Linked DNA regions of Homo sapiens. The protein of the gene in region 1 purifies or fractionates together with the protein of each later gene. This does not show direct contact. Each region holds a gene or a part of one and is shown on either strand. Other genes may lie near its edges. The genes, in order: C19orf38, RABGAP1L and CAMK1.

Region 1 (3,653 bases):
CACACAGGAGGCACTTAATAAATGGCTCCTGTTCCTATTACGCAGCATGCCCACCAGGAGGCGCTGTTTGTGGGGGGCATGGAGTGCCCACCCTGCCAGGGAAGTGTCCTTCTTTCCCCAAACCACCCTCTGTGGGTCTCCAGGGATGATCTCACCTTTTCTTCTGTAAATTTCTGAGTTTAACTGGAACAAAAAAGAAATGAGCATGTGTTAGATTTTGGTCCTAATTGTATCCGGCAATTTCTGTTTTTTTTTTTTTTTTTTTTTTTTTTAGACAGAGTCTCATTCTTTCACCCAGGCTGGAGTGCAGTGGCTCAATCTTGGCTCACTGCAACCTCTGCCTCCTGGATTTAAGCAATTCTCCTGCCTCAGCCTCTCGAGTAGCTGGGATTACAAGTGTGCATCACCAGGCCAGGCTATTTTTGTATTTTAGTAGAGAAGAGGGTTCGTCATGTTGGCCAGACTGGTCTCGAACTCCTGACCTCAAGTGATCCACTTGCCTCGGCCTTTCAAAGTGCTGGGATTACAGGCAAGCCACCCCACCCAGCCTGGAAGGCCTCAGATTTTTCTTTCTTTCTTTCTTTCTTTCTTTCTTTCTTTCTTTTTTTGTTGTTTTTTGAGACAGAGTCTCGTTCTGTCGCCCAGGCTGGAGTGCAGTGGTATGATCTTGACTCACTGCAACCTCTGCCTCCCAGGTTCAAGCGATTCTTCTGCCTCACCCTCCCATGTAGCTGGGACTACAGGTGCACACCACCACGCCCGGCTAATTTTTGTGTTTTCATTAGAGATGGGGTTTCACCATATTGCCCAGGCTGGTCTCAAACTCCTGACCTCGCGATCTGCCCACCTCGGCCTCCCAAAGTGCTGGGCCATCCTGGACAACATGGTGAAACCCTGTCTCCACTAAAAATACAAAAGTTAGCTGGGTGTGGTGGCACGCACCTGTAGTCCCAGCTACTCGGGAGGCTGAGGCAGGAGAATCACTTTAACCTGGGAGGCGGAGGTTGCACTGAGTCGAGATTGTGCCACTGCACTCCAGGCTGGCAACAGAGCAAGTGAGTCGAGATCGCCTCACTGCACTCCAGCCTGGGTGACAGGGCAAGACTCCATCTTAAAAAAAAAAAAAAAAAAATATATATATATATATATATATATATATGTATGTGTGTGTGTGTGTATGTATATATATACACACATATATATATACATACACACACATATATACCCACACACATACACACACACACAAACACACATAATTTGGCTGGGCATGGTGGCACATGCCTGTAATTCCAGCATTTTGGGAGGCTGAGGCAGGAAGATCACTTGAACCCAGGAGTTCAAGACCAGCCTGGGCAATATAGCAAGACCCTATCTCAACAAAAAATATTTTTTAAAAATTAGCCAGGTGTGGTAGTGTGTGCCTGTGGTCCCAGGACTTTTGGGAGGCTGAGGTGGGAGGATTGCTTGAGCCCAGGAGTTACCCAGCCTGGGCAACACAGCAAGACCCTGTCCTAAAAAAAATAAATAAATAATTAGCTGCATGTGGTGGCACGCACCTGTGGTCCCAGCTACTTGGGAGGCTGAGGCAGGAGAACTGCTTGAGCCCAGGAGGTCAAGGATGCAGCGAGCTATGATCCTGCCATTGCACTCCAGCCTGGGTGACAGACTGAGTCTCCAAATAAAAAATTTTTAGGCCGGGGACTGTGGCTCATGCCTATAATCCCAGCACTTTGGGAGGCCGAGGTGGGCGGATCACCTGAGGTCAGGAGTTCCAGACCAGCTTGGGCAACATGGCAAAACCACATCTCTTCTAAAAATACAAATATTGGCGAGGCATGGTGGTGCACGCCTGTAATCCCAGCTACTTGAGAGGCTGAGGCAGGAGAATTGCTTGAACCTCGAAGGCGGAGGTTGCAGTGGGCCGAGATCGTGCCACTGCACTCCAGCCTGGGCGACAGAGCGAGCCTCTGTCTGAAAAGAAAAATAATAAATAAATAAATAAATACTTTTAAAAGGGGTGTGATGAACAAATTACTGAACCTGAAAACAAAATGGTGTGAGTTGTGAGTGTAAGCACATCTTCACGTTCCAGAAGTTGTCAACTGGCAACTTGTGTGCCAGGCTTTGCGTGCTGTTACCTTTTCTGACCACCAGGGCAACAGCCACCAGCCCAGCAAGGAGGAAGAGGGCACCAGCCAGGCTCAGGGAGAGCACCAAGATCCAAGTGGGCACTGGAGGAAAATCAGAAAAGAGAGTGGGCAGGTCAGTGTCGTCTCTCCAGGTTACCTTTGAGTAGCCAGCCCTTACCCCATAACCCCCAACCAAAGAACATGAATGCAGCTGGACCCAAGAGACTTAGCAAACTTTGTGTCTGGCCAATTAGCCTATCCCCCGCTCCTGGCTATTGTGATTGGTTCAGGATGAGCATGTAACCCAAGTGGAGCCAATGAGAGCTAACTCTGGGACTTTGGTGGTACCACTGGGAAAAGAGGTTTACTCCTCTGGCTAGCATTGCATAGGATAGATATCTTAGGCCAGGTGCGGTGATTCATGCCTGTAATCCCAACACTTTGGGAGGCTGAGGCAGGTGGATTACTTGAGGCCAGGGGCTCAAGACCAGCCTAGCCAACACAGGGAAATTCTGTCTATATTAAAAATATAAATAATTGGCCAGGCGCAGTGGCTCACGCCTGTAATCCCCACACTTTGGGAGGCCAAGGCAGGTGGATCACTAGGTCAGTAGATCGAGACCATCCTGGCTAACACTGTGAAACCCCGTCTCTACTAAAAATACAAAAAATTAGCCAGGCGTGCTGGCACGTGCCTGTAGTCCCACTTACTCAGGAGGCTGAGGCAGGAGAATCACTTGAACCCGGGAGGCGGAGGTTGCAGTGAGCTGAGATGGCGCCACTGAACTCCAGCCTGGGTGACAGAGCAAGACTCTGTCTCAAAAAGAAACAAACAAAACAAAAAACAACAAAACCCCACAAATAATTAGCCAGGTGTGGTGCACACCTGTAATTCCAGCTACTTCAGAGGCTGAGGCACAAGAATAGTTTGAACCCGGGAAGTGGAGGGTGCACTGAGCTGAGATCGTGCTACTGCACTCCAGCCTGGGTGACACAGAGAGACCCCATCTGAAGAAACAAACAAAAAAAGAGATGGCTGGGCACGGTGGCTCACGCCTGTAATCCCAGCCCTTTGGGAGACTGAGGTGGGTGGATCACCTGAGGTCAGGAGTTCGAGATCAACCTGGCCAACATAGTGAAACCTCGTCTCTACTAAAAATACAAAAATTAGCCAGGTGTTACGTGCCTGTAATCCCAGCTACTTGGGACGCTGAGGCAGGAGAATCGATTGAACCCAAAAGGTGGAGGTTGCAGTGAGCCGAGATTGGGCCATTGCCTTCCAGTCTGGGTGACACAGCTAGAATCTGTCTCAAAAAAAAAAAAAAAAAAAAAAAAAGAATATATATCTGAAGCTTCAGGGCACAATCTTGCCTCCATGAGGGGGAGAAACTACCTGAGAATAAGACAGAAGAGGAGCTGAGAAGGCAAATGCTTTCTGTCATTTTTCAGCACCTGGATCCAGCCATATCTGAAGTCAGCCATGTAAACTGACTTCAGCTCAGTGAACCAACAAATCCCCTC
Region 2 (3,653 bases), on another chromosome or scaffold:
CCTGGCCTCATTGAGGTTTTTGAATCTATGGCCTGGTCATTCCATACCATTTTGTAATTTCCTCATTCCTTTTTAAATATTTTTTAAAATTTATTTTCTTTACAATTTTTAGTTCTCTGTTAAAGGAAAGTCCAAATAACCAAGGCCACCACTAGAAGAAACCCTCAATAGTGTTTTTAAATATTATATAACATTCAGATTCATCAACTACTTCTCAAATTCAATAACAATTTTATTACATTCTTACTAAATACAGTCTTACTAAATACACCTGCCAATTCAAGAGAAACTAAAATTTGTTAGACATTATACTTGACCTGGAGGACCTTAGAGAAAGGAGTAAGGAGTAATAACACAAGACAGAATATAACATTCAACTGGATCTTAGTGCAGTGGAAAGATCCAAGACTTTTCATCTCTCAGGTTCTAAACTTCTTCCATAAAAATCAAACTTTATTTGATCACACATTCTCTGAGTAATGTGTAATTTCAAGGACATAATTTAGAAATTTTAAAAATCAGGGCAACATTTTTGTGTGGCATATGAGATAATGTTAAATTTAAAATGTATACTTTGAATCAGAATATTATAATATACTATTATATAGTTTAATAGAATAAATTATAAATAAATTTTCTTTTGTGGACCAAATATATATTTTATTGCAAAATAAAACTAAACTAGGTGTTACATTAAAAACATAAAAACTATTTTTATAACTTGATATGCAAAATTCTTATATTTTGTTCTTCAAAACTGTCAACTGGCTTATTTTTATCATTTTTGTGGCTTCCTTCTGAACAAGTATAAGAAAGAAGTTACAGGTATTTGCAAGCCTGTCTCCAGAAATAACAAATTGTGGGTCTAAAAATTATTTACTGCTAATAAATGAAAAGTTAAATTTTATATAATCTTTTTTTCTGTTTAGCCTTTATTTTTAGACAGCTTAATATGTGATCAATGTATGTGATTTATATAAATGGTGAATACTCTCTTTAAGGAAATGAAAGAATAATTATCATTTTAATGCCCTTCATTAACATATTATATTTTCATATCAGTATTCACGAATGCTTCCTGTCAGTAACCAAAAGTCTACTGTGGGTATAAACTAAATAATATAAAAATTAATGATAAAACAAACTGATCCATTATATTCTAAATATGAATTAATGGTTTAATGACAGTAAAGCACTTAGGGTAGGCATATAACTCGGCAGGTAAAACTTTAAATTTAGTTTAAAAGTAGATAATGAAGGGGCAAAAAACAGGCAATTAACAGCTATCTGGATGAAGTAGGAATGAAAAAACACAATGGAACAACGAAAAATGTGACTATTCAACATTTATACATTCTGTTCAATACTAGACATGATAAATAATATGAAAAGTTAAAAAACTAAGAAAAAACTATTTGCTACAACTGAAATATTTAATATATATTACAAGCATCCCGAAGGCCAAAAGACTGGAGCCAATAATTAATAAATGAAAAACTATAAGTAAACTATAATGCAAAAATAGTTAATAATTTAAAAATATTCAAAATTCTAAAATATTTCCTTTTCATCATTTTCTTTAATATTTCTCCATCACTAGTCTCCACAAATGAAATAACTCTATAGTGGTATATGAAAAACAAAGCCCAAATGCTTTCTCTATAATCTAATAAAATTAATTCAGGCCAGGTGCAGTGGCTCACATCTGTAATCCCAGTGCTTTGGAAGGCAAGAAGATCAGTTGAGGTCAAAGGTTCAAGACAAGCCTGGGCAACAAAGCATGACCCCATCGCTACAAAAATAAAATTTAAAAATTAGCCATGCATGGCAGCACACACCTGTAGTTCTATTTAATAGCTACTCAGGAGGCTGAGGTGGGAGGATTGCTTGAGCATGACAGTTTGAGGTTACAGTGAGCTATAATGCCCCTATACTCTACCCTGGGCAACAGAGTGAGACCCTGTCTCTTAAAATAATAACAATAATAATAATTCACATATCTTTTGGGGAGGATTTTTTTAAATAGTGGAGATTTCCCCCATAGAAGCATAAAGAATAAAAATGAACCTCAAATTCTCAATGAAAGAATAAGTCCACTTTGAGTTCCAAATTTTTTTTAAAACATGACAAGCAACATTGTTCATAATATAAAATGTAAAGCAAACAATAAGGGATCTTTTAAGAAAAGTCACCTTTTGGGGTTTCCTCGTTAAGTGCCAGAAATACTGGTGCATTGGGGTTCCACATGCCAGTGATGACATAAGCTCTCCCATCATAGCTCTTTCCCATGGATTCCTATAAAAATTCAAACAGTAATTACTGATAAAAGACATCAAAAAAATCACTACTTTAAATTACATCTTACTTTAAGCAATACAAATTATTAAAATTTAGATTAACAGTCAAGCAGGAGCTTTATATTCACTGTAAATTCTTTTCATCCTACAAAAGCATTTATTTAAATATTAAATTCTTCTACAGCTTTCTTCAAGCACAGTTTCTATTTAAAGACATGTACCCTTGGATAAAAGGAGGCATATACTTACATGCTGAATCAAAAAAACATAATATTGTTACAAAGTTGTATTTAACTTGATCTTGACACCAATTGTCCAAATCTCATATACACATAAGAATGTATATGGTTTCTATTAAAACAATAATATAGAATTAGCTGAAGACAGTTAAACTGAACTAGTAGCTAATCACAGTAGGGAAAGTTAATATTTTTCTTCTAATATTCTAATTTTTAATGAATTCTTAAAATATTAATTTAGTTTGTAGCAATTAATACCTTTAAAATTAACACTTGTCTATTTTCTATATGTCAGATATTTATATACTTTCTTACAATCATAAATTAGTATTAGGAGACTAATTTTTGGTTTGTAAGCAGCATCCAAGTGTATTAACTCTCTCCCTCTACTGTTACACTTACTCCCTCTTTCTTCCCTTCTCTCCTTCCTCCTCTTCTCCATTCTTTAAGACTTTACCAAGCCAGCTCTTGACTCTCACTAAAAAAGCCAGCAACTCCTATGGCGAAAGCTAGGCTACTTATAGCTTGTGTATATGTGTGTGGAGAGAGGAGGGGTAGAGTTTGTCCCATGAAAGAACAACACACAGCATACAAGTATTTCCATATGCAAATGAACAGTATCTACAATATTTCAGTTTTTGTAGCGATTTCCTCACATTATGAATAGAGACTGTTAAAAGGGTCAGACTAAAACAAAGAGAAAAACTTTTCTTTTTTCATTATTACCCATTCACAGATGTTTCTCTGAACCCCCTATAAAATTGTGTCAGTCATTTGGTAATTACTATGTATATTTTTCTAGTGTATTAGTAATACTTCACTAATCAGATTGTGTAGCTTGAGCGCAGGGACCATGCATTCCAGAGATGAAATACACTCAAGGTCACTTGTAAACGAAACCCTCTCAGCAGCCCCAACACACTCATATGATAATGGTCTCTTTCTCTCCTCTACACACACACACACACACACACACACACACACAGAGTCACCTGTTGCTTAATGATAGGGTTATGTTCTAAGTTATGTGTCATTAAGTGATTTCTTTATGCAAATAGAATACACCGTACTTATAAAAACCTAGATGGTATAGGGGCTACACAACTAGGCTGTTGCT
Region 3 (3,653 bases), on another chromosome or scaffold:
TTTGTGTAGGGTTTTGGAAGCCAGGCCAGGGAGGCTGGATATTGTCCCATAGGCCACCGGGAGACACTTAAGACTTTTTGGCAGGTGTGCAATTCAGGATAGTCACTCTGGCCACAGCTTGGAGGGTAAATTGGAGAGGGACAAGACTGGAAACCAGTGATGAGGTTACTACAGTAACTAATTATCCCTGAGGATTGAAATTTCACCACGAGAGATGCTTTTCTTTGACTTATGACTTCTTATTCTCCCAGAGAAAGCAAACAGATGTGGAAAGAATACCCTAGCAAATCCTCTTTAATCAGTTAACTTTAGTTAAATGAGTTTATTTGTTCCTTTTTAAGAACCTGTTCTAAAACACTGCTTCTTAAAGTTCAATGAGCATACAAATCACCTGAGGATTTTGTTAAACTGCAGATTGATTTAGTAAATCTGGGGCAGGGCCTAAAGTTTTGCATTTCTTTTTTTTTTCTTTTTTTTGACCCAGGATCCAAAGCAGTAGAGATTTTGCATTTCTAAAAAAGTTCCCGGGTGATGCTGATGGTTCTTTAAGGTTCTAAAGGGTGTTAAATTAGCCATGACTCGAATTAGCAGAAAAAGGGATGAACCAACTGTACACATAATCCAAAAGCCCAGGGGTAGACCTCAGGCATGGCTGGATCCAGAGGGCCACATAATGTTATCAGGAAATATATTTGGCCATTTCTCAGGTTGGACTTCCTTTGTGTTAATTTCATTCCCAAGCAGGCTCTCCCCAGGTGGTGGCAAAGATGATCGCCATTAGCTCCAGGCTTACATCCTACCAGCTCAACAGGAGACTCATTCTCAAAGTGCTAGTAAGCTGGCTTGCATCACATGACCAATTACTGTGGCCAGGGGAGAGACTACTTTGACTGGCCAGGCCTGGGTCATGTGACCATCTCTGGAGCCAGGGGATGGATGAGTGACTAGGGGAGGGTCATCCACGTCCTTGGTCCAGCAGTGGTCACAGAACCCATAGGGAATGGAGGAGAGGCTGGAGGGAAGCTGGGGTTCCAGTTCTTCACCTTGTGAATCCCCTCTCCCGATAGGGGGGCCTTCTCGGAGGTGATCCTGGCAGAAGATAAGAGGACGCAGAAGCTGGTGGCCATCAAATGCATTGCCAAGGAGGCCCTGGAGGGCAAGGAAGGCAGCATGGAGAATGAGATTGCTGTCCTGCACAAGTGCGTGGGCCACAGCCTTTCCCTGCCCCAAGCTGACCCTGCCTTGGCCCTCCCATCCTCCTCCTTTCCTGCTTTGGACAAATCATTTAAACTCTCTAAGCCTTAAATTGCCCCTTTATAAAATGGGGATCACAATTTCCACTTGGCAGGGTTGTGGGGAACATCAGAAGTCCTTTATTTCAAGTGCCTGGCCTAACATGACAGATGTGATGGAGGTGCCAGTGCTTAGTCACAGGGGTTTAACTGTTCAATCAGGTGTAAAGATCCATCCTGAACATGGCTTGGACCCACATATCTCAGTTGGTGTTGTCTCTGGACCTACCTCAAGTTCCCCTCACATATTAAAACCACTCAGCAAGTTTAAAAATGACTGTCTGCTGACCCCCAGACTAAATCCACAACCAACTGGTCTATGAATTGCTCATGCTGATATGAAACCTCCTGTCCTCACTGGAAAACTTACAGAGAATCACTTCCAATCTCTCCCCTGAGCTTCCAACCACCCTGGGCAGATAATTTTTTTTTTTTTTTTGAGATGGAGTCTCACTCTGTTGCCCCGGCTGGAGTGCAGTGACGCAATCTTGGCTCACTGCAACCTCTGCCTCTTGGGTTCAAGCAATTCTCTTGCTTCAGCCTCCCTAGTAGCTGGGATTACAGGCACCTGCCACCACGCCCGGCTAATTTTTGTATTTTTAGTAGAGATGGGGTTTCGCCATGTTGGCCAGGCTGGTCTCGAACTCCTGACCTCAGGTGATCCACCCGCCTCGGCCTCCCAAAGTGCTAGGCATGAGCCACCACACCCAACTCCTGGCAGAGCATTTCTAATAAGACCCAGAGAGGACAGGGATTTGTATACAGTCACATGGCAAGTTTGTGGCAGAGCTGAGCCTTCCTCATCATCAAGATCAATTATCGCCTGACCAACACGGAGAAACCCTGTCTCTACTAAAAATACAAAATTAGCCAGGCGTGGTGGCACATGCCTGTAATCCCAGCTACTTGGGAGGCTGAGGCAGGAGAATTGCTTAAACCCGAGAGGTGGAGGTTGCGGTGAGCCGAGATCACACCGTGCATTACACTCCAGCCTAGGCAACAAGAGCAAAACTCCATCTCAAAAAAAAAAAAAAAAACAAAAAAAAAACAAAAACGCCAGGCGCAGTGGCTCACGCCTGTAATCCCAGCACTTTGAGAGGCTGAAGTGGGCAGATCACCTGAGGTGGGGAGTTCCAAACCAGCCTGACCAACATGGAGAAACTCCGTCTCTACTAAAAATACAAAATTAGCTGGACATGGTGGCGCATGCCTGTAATCCCAGCTACTTGAGAGGCTGAGAAAGAAGAATCACTTGAACCCAGGAGGCAGAAATTGTGATGAGCCAAGATCATGCCATTGCACTCCAGCCTGGGCAACACTCCAGCCTGAGCAACAAGAGTAAAACTCCGTCTCAAAAAAAGAAAAAAAAAATCAATTACCATTATTGTTTCACTTATGAGTATTTACCGTGTGCCAGGCACTGTGCCAAGCACCTTACCTGCATTATCTCACATGATCCTCACTCCAACTCTTTGAGGGAAGTACTACCATTGGCTTCATTTTATAGATGAAGAAACTGAGGTTCAGAGAGGTTACATTAAATCTAGCACCTACCCTGTACCAGGTGCTGGAGGAACAGTGGCAAGCAAGACAAAGCCTCTGGATTCGGGGAGCTTATGTCTGGTGGGGGAGGCTGACAAACATGTAAACACAGAAAACTATATATATATATTTTTTTTGAGATGGAGTTTTGCTCTTGTTGCCCAGGCTGGAGTGTAATGGCATGATCTCGACTCACTGCAACCTCCGTTTCCCAGGTTTAAGCAATTCTCCTGCCTCAGCCTCACAGATAGCTGGGATTACAGGCATGTGCCACCATGCCTGGCTAATTTTTGTATTTTTAGTAGAGATGGGTTTTCGCCATGTTGGCCAGGCTGGTCTCGAACTCCTGACCTCAAGTGATCCGCCTGCCTTGGCCTCCCAAAGTGCTGGGATTACAGGTGTGAGTCTCTGTGCCTAGCCAGAAAACTCTTAAGAGGTATGTATCAGGCTGGGTGCAGTGGCTCACTGGTGAAAAGATCTGCACCCAAATAGCATGTGACGGGCAGGATTTGGACCCAGGTCTGTGTATGCCAGAGCCCAGTGTTTATCCCTCTGCTCTCTCACCTTCCAAAAAATGGTAATAAACCATGGTAAGCTAGCTTTTCCCTTTGGGGACGAGATCCTTGGTTTGTCCTACCCAGGTATGTAGGCAGTGGTCGGGGGTTGGGGGTGGCTGAGCTGTCCTGAGCTCTAAACCGCTGTTTTTTTTTTTTTTTTTTTGAGACAGGGTCTTACTCTGTTGCCCAGGCTGGAGTGCAGTGGCTAGTCACAGGTGCAATCATAACAGACTGCAGCTTTGAACTGCTGGGGCCAAGTGAT

The links.
Region 2: the proteins of C19orf38 (region 1) and RABGAP1L purify together in Homo sapiens (affinity purification with mass spectrometry, with the first as the bait; one large-scale study listed by BioGRID). This does not show direct contact.
Region 3: the proteins of C19orf38 (region 1) and CAMK1 purify together in Homo sapiens (affinity purification with mass spectrometry; one large-scale study listed by BioGRID and IntAct). This does not show direct contact.

What each region holds. Positions count from the first base shown.
Region 1 is NC_000019.10:10,854,846-10,858,498, reverse strand, and holds part of C19orf38 (protein HIDE1 precursor), read right to left. Parts: intron 2,235-3,653; coding exon 2,142-2,234; intron 184-2,141; coding exon 156-183; intron 1-155.
Region 2 is NC_000001.11:174,274,475-174,278,127, reverse strand, and holds part of RABGAP1L (rab GTPase-activating protein 1-like), read right to left. Parts: intron 3,029-3,653; exon of another isoform or gene 2,939-3,028; intron 2,296-2,938; coding exon 2,193-2,295; intron 1-2,192. UniProt on the Homo sapiens protein: GTP-hydrolysis activating protein (GAP) for small GTPase RAB22A, converting active RAB22A-GTP to the inactive form RAB22A-GDP. Plays a role in endocytosis and intracellular protein transport.
Region 3 is NC_000003.12:9,763,305-9,766,957, reverse strand, and holds part of CAMK1 (calcium/calmodulin-dependent protein kinase type 1), read left to right. Parts: intron 1-307; exon of another isoform or gene 308-822; coding exon of another isoform or gene 823-1,067; coding exon 1,068-1,199; intron 1,200-3,653. Other genes in the region: OGG1 (N-glycosylase/DNA lyase), read right to left, coding at 823-1,149. UniProt on the Homo sapiens protein: Calcium/calmodulin-dependent protein kinase that operates in the calcium-triggered CaMKK-CaMK1 signaling cascade and, upon calcium influx, regulates transcription activators activity, cell cycle, hormone production, cell differentiation, actin filament organization and neurite outgrowth.